2 linked regions of the Homo sapiens genome follow. The protein of the gene in region 1 purifies or fractionates together with the protein of each later gene. This does not show direct contact. Each region holds a gene or a part of one and is shown on either strand. Other genes may lie near its edges.

Region 1 (2,488 bases):
ATAATACATGAGATTTTTATAATTGAGAAATTTAGTTTCTCAGGTGGTAAGAAAACAGCCAGTTGAGAATTCTAAGGCATGAAGCTAAGAGGTGACTTGTGTTGACCCCAAGCAACTCCATGACGCTGGGATTTCTAAGTCCTTAGAAATTCCTGGCTGGACCTTGTCAGAATGTTTAAAAAACTATTCTCCTAAAAGCCTCCATCTGCCAGCATGTTCAAAGATTATAGAATGTGGTCTGGCTGCTTCTCAGCGCTCGCTCTATTAGGGGGCAGCCTCCCCACCAGTACACCAGGACATTTGAGAAGGCTGGCCCTCCAAGCTGCACCTGGGCCATATACTCAACTGGCCTTCCTTATCTCCTCAAAATGAGTTCGCCTGTGGAGAGGTTACTTTGATAATGGGAAGAGAAGTAAGATATGGTACCTGCTTCTCTGAAGAGTTGGTATTCAAGTTGAAATAAATTGTTTCATTTTTCTCCAAAAGGCTGAGAGGCTACACTTGACTTGGATCAAAACAATAAAACACAGTCATTATTTAAGAAAATTTATTTCTACTTCTACAGCAGAAATACGGAAATGGTACAGGTTTGGGCAAATCATACTTTATGAAATGGATCCTCATACCACATCCTTTTTAATACAGGCACGTTATAACATAATTCCTGGATTTTCAAAATCCAGCCAACACGGATACCTCTGCTACTCTGTTTTGGCCTTCATAGCTGCTTCCTCTTTCAGACGAGCTTTCTTTTCTAAGTTCAAGCTTGTTAAAGTCTCGTGTCTTTGGGCAGCCTAAAGCAAAACAGATTTGAACAGGTGATTTGTATGCTGGTCAGGGGAGGGTGTCTTTACCTTGCACTGATGACAGCAGGTTAACAGAGGCATGGAGGCATGGAGTCCTCTGCTGCTTGCACACTGAGCACGGCAGTTTCCTCTATGTGCTTCAACTTCCTCGTACGCTTCCAAGAACAGCAGCTCATCCACTCAAGCATAAGTAAGAAGTGCCACACCTCTCCTTTTTCTTCCCTTCTGGCCCCTTTCTTTCAGTCTTTATCCTCTCCTTTTCTCTTATACTTTCTTCTCATTCCACCCCACTTCTCTTTTATACTAAATACCTTCTCATTGCCATTTCTATCCCGTTTTTCTTCTTTCACTTTTCTCTGTTGCTGCCATTTCTCCTTCCCCAACTTATCTGCATACTCAGATCCTTCTAGTTCCTCACTTCTCTTTTACCAAAAACATTCAGCTTTGGGAATCCCAGACTTTACCCAAATACTACCATTGATGATTTCCACGAGTATCTGTACTACAATTCCAACCTTTGAGTGGGGGAGGCAACCGTCCTCTTCCCTTGTTTCCCTCCATGTAAACGGTCAGATTTCTATGAAGCTTACATACAGGCCAGTTTCAACACTTTTATACCAAATAGTGAAACTAGCACCCTAAGCTGATATTTCCTTCTATCTGTGTAATTTCATATGTAAAAGAATTGGGTATGTGGCGGGGGGTGGGGGAGCGGGGGGAGAAAGGGAAGTTGATGGTGAGAGCAAAATATACAATGGCTAATTTTTCTCTTCCAAATCACATTGAGTTCAAAAGTTCTCCATTCCAGTAGTATTTATGGAAACAGAAATTCCATAAAACTAAAATGTTACAATTTTATGGTAAAGAACAGGAGAAGAACTCTCTAAAATACACAGCATATACCCCTGGATGATGCTAGAAGAGATTCCAGGTGAATAATTTGCTTCTGGAGTATTTAAACTCAGCTAGTACAATCGAGTATACAAAAGCAATGCAAATTTCTCAGAATCCTAGAAGCTCACAGTCCTGTCCACATGTTTCTGCTGGTTTTAATCTGAGAACTATGCATGAGAGGTCAAAGAGGGAGACAAGAAAAAATGAAGTGGGGTGGGAACAGAGTTTTCAAGAGAACTTCACCCAGCTCAGCACATTTGCCCCTTCGTACTCCCATGAGGTCAGCCTAAAATGGTCAGTATTTCCATTTAACTGCAAGAATGAAGACAGCCAAAAGTACATTTCCTTTTACTCTGGAATTACTGAGGATAAGAAAGTCAGTTAAGAGTGCGTGTATAGAAGGACCTTTTTAGTATCTTAAAGTAGTTGTAAGACATCACTTTCCACATGGAAGCTGTGATATATAGAATTATACATGGTATTAAAAGAAGAATTTGACCAAAGCTGCTGAATATAAAAATAACTATGGCTTAATAGCAAGATAGTATAGTATGAGGTTTGGTAACCTGCAAACTTGGGTCTAGATTTTTATCTTGCCACTTGTTAGCTGTGTGAGTTTGGGAAAACTATTTACCTCTTAGGGTTATGGGGGTGATTAAGTGAGCTTAACAGTGCCTGTTACATAATAAGCACTCAATAAATGGGAGGAATTTTCCTATTACCTGAATTGGGTCTAGGTTCACACTGTGGCTCGTCATTAAGGAGATATGTGGCCTTGGGCAAGTTAC
Region 2 (3,662 bases), about 110 Mb from region 1:
CCCCGGTAACTAACTCTACTTTCAGTTTCTAAGAATTGAAGGGGTTTTTTTTTTCCAAGTCTTTCTACCCTAGATCAGCATTAGCTCTACTCAGTAAAATCCTGCAGTGACCTTTTTAAGAAAATGTTTTCAGTAATAATAATGTCATTACCAGCAGTTCATGTTTGCATTTGCCATACCGCCCAAGGCATGGATGAGACCTGGGCCAGAAACAACAAGGCAGACTCCTGGCCTAAAAGCAAAACAGAATTTATTAAAATCAGGTCAAATGTAACAACTGATTCATAACACTTTAGTGTGAAACATGGCAATCTTGGACTTCAAAGGAAGGACATACAAGTCTTTACTATAACTGATAAAACAATTATTAGAATATTTTTAATTAAAAAACAAGGCGATATATATATATCGCGATATATATACATACACACATATACGTATATAGTGTATACACTATATATGTATATAGTGTATATATACGTATATACGTGTATATATACACACACTATATACATAGTGTATATATATACACACTATATACCTATAGTATATACTATATACGTATATATACACACACTACATACGTATATATACACACACTATATACGTATATATACGTATATACGTATACGTATATATACACACACTATATACGTATATATACACACTATATACGTATACATACGTGTATATATGTATACATACGTATATACGTATACATGCATGTATATATGTATACATACGTATATATGTATACATGCGTGTATATATGTATACATACGTATATACGTATACATACGTGTATATATGGATCCATATATACGTATACATACGTGTATATGTATACATACGTATATATATGTATACATATATGTATATATACTCTGGGCACCAGAGTATACTCTATATATATGTATACATACAGACACACGTATACACACACGTGTATACATGTAGACACACGTATACACACACGTATGCATGTAGACACACGTATACATACACACACGTATACATACACACACGTATACATACACTTGTATACATATACACTTGTATATACACTTGTATACATATACACATGTATACACATGTACGCACATGTGTGCGTGTATACACATGTACGCACATGTGTGCGTGTATACACATGTACGCACATGTGTGCGTGTATACACATGTACGCACATGTGTGCGTGTATACACATGTACGCACATGTGTGCGTGTATACACATGTACGCACATGTGTGCGTGTATACACATGTACGCACATGTGTGCGTGTATACACATGTACGCACATGTGTGCGTGTATACACATGTACGCACATGTGTGCGTGTATACACATGTACGCACATGTGTGCGTGTATACACATGTACGCACATGTGTGCGTGTATACACATGTACGCACATGTGTGCGTGTATACACATGTACGCACATGTGTGCGTGTATACACATGTACGCACATGTGTGCGTGTATACACATGTACGCACATGTGTGCGTGTATACACATGTACGCACATGTGTGCGTGTATACACATGTACGCACATGTGTGCGTGTATACACATGTACGCATATGTACATATATACTCTGGGCAAGAGTGAGATGCTATCTCAAAAAAAGTGTATATATACACACACATATACATATATGTGTGTGTATATATACACACACATACGTATATATGTATATATACACACATACACACATACGTATATATGTGTGTATATATACACACATATATATGTGCGTGTGTGTATATATATACACACTTTTTTTTTGAGATAGCATCTCACTCTGTTGCTCAGGCTGGAGTGCAGTGGCATGATCAGGGCTCACTGCAGCCTCAACCTCCTAAGCTCAGGTGATCTTCCCACCACAGCCTCCCAAGTAACCGGGACTACAGGCAGATGCCACCACACCCGGCTAATTTTTTGTATTTTTTTTTGGTAGAGATGGGGTTTCACCATGTTGCCCAGGCTGGTCTTGAACTCCTGGGCTCAAGCAATCTGCCTGCCTTGGCCTCCCAAAGTGCTGGGATTACAGGCATAAGCCAGCATGCCTGGCCCAAAAAAAGAAAGATATCGGATTTCTTGTGAGAAATAAGGTACCTATCATTTTCACACCTTATGTCTCTAACCACTTATTTTGATCTGGACTACATCTGGACTAAATCAAGTTAATGGTATACAGAAGCAAATTTTTGACTGCTGAGTTCATTTTTGTATGAAAAAAGGTTTTTTTTTCATTTCTTAACAAATAAATATAACGTCGACTGATCTTTGATAGGAAAGTAATTCTGAATGCAGTGCTCTGCCCAAAATGTTTTGTGTTTTTTTTTTTGTCTTTTTTTTTTTTTTTTTTGAGACGAAGTCTCGTTCTTGTTCCCCAGGCTGCAGTGCAATGGTGTGATCTCGGCTCACTGCAACCTCCGCCTCCCGGATTCAAGTGATTCTCCTGCCTCAGCCTCCCAAGTAGCTGGGATTACAGGCATGTGCCACCACACCCGGCTAATTTTTGTATTTTTAGTAGAGACGGGGTTTCACCATGTTTGGCCAGGCTTGTCTCCAACTCCTGGCCTCAGGTGATCCACCCGCCTCGGCCTCCCAAAGTGCTGGGATTACAGGCATGAGCCACCGCGCCTGGTCCCCAAAATCTTTTAAAACTGAATTTGAGGCTGAGCACGGTGGCTGACGTCTGTAATCCCAGCATCTTGAGAGGCTGAGGCAGATGGATCACTTGAGTCTAGGAGTTCAAGACCAGCCTGGGCAACATGATGAAACCCTGTCTCTAAAAAATATAAAAACTAGCTGAGTATGGTGGTGCACACCTGTAGTGCCAGCTACTTGGGAGGCTGAGGCAGGAGAATCGCTGGAACCTGGGAGGTGGAGTTTGCAGTGAGCCGAGATGGTGCCACTGCACTCCAGCATGGAGACGACAGAGTGAGACTCCAAATAAATAAATATTGAACTTGAATGTTTTACCCTTCAGTGTGACTTTCTAAGCTTAAACCACTCGGGAAAAAGGTATCTCAATATAATTCAGTTCACCATTTTACACTTATAAAATAATTTCTTAAAAATTTCTGTTTAAGACAGACTTGAAAATAAGTAATTACCACCAAGTAAACTAAACTTCTAGAACAGTACTATCCAACAGAACTTTGTATAGTAATAGAAATGTTCTGCATTTGCAGTATGATACGGTAGCCACTACTGACATGGTTACTGAGCACTTGAAATGTGGCTACTACAAACTGATAAACTATGATTTAAATGTTATTTAATTTTAATTAATTTAAATGTAAACAAGTCATACGGCTCGTGGCTACTATACTTGCCAGTGCAGCTCCAGAAGTTCATTCAAACAGCAAAAATGTTTTAAATATGAACTTTTCGGCCGGGCATGGTGGCTCACGCCTGTAATCCCAGCCCTTTGGGAGGCCAAGGCCAGCAGATCATGAGGTCAAGAGACAGAGACCATCCTGGCCAACATAGTGAAACCCCATCTCTACTAAAATACAAAAATTAGCTGGGTGTGGTGGTGCATGCCTGTAATCCCAGCTACTGGGGAAGCTGAGGCATGAGGATCGCTTGAACCCAGGAGGCAGAGGTTCCACTGAGCCGAGATTGCACCACTGCACTGTCCAGCCCAGATAAC

What was found. The genes of interacting proteins can lie anywhere in the genome.
Region 2: the proteins of FAM162A (region 1) and HACL1 fractionate together in Homo sapiens (co-fractionation; one large-scale study listed by BioGRID). This does not show direct contact.

Annotation. Positions count from the first base shown.
Region 1 is NC_000003.12:122,408,045-122,410,532, reverse strand, and holds part of FAM162A (protein FAM162A), read right to left. Parts: intron 795-2,488; coding exon 702-794; 3' UTR 1-701. UniProt on the Homo sapiens protein: Proposed to be involved in regulation of apoptosis; the exact mechanism may differ between cell types/tissues.
Region 2 is NC_000003.12:15,591,449-15,595,110, forward strand, and holds part of HACL1 (2-hydroxyacyl-CoA lyase 1), read right to left. Parts: intron 233-3,662; coding exon 152-232; intron 1-151. UniProt on the Homo sapiens protein: Peroxisomal 2-OH acyl-CoA lyase involved in the cleavage (C1 removal) reaction in the fatty acid alpha-oxydation in a thiamine pyrophosphate (TPP)-dependent manner.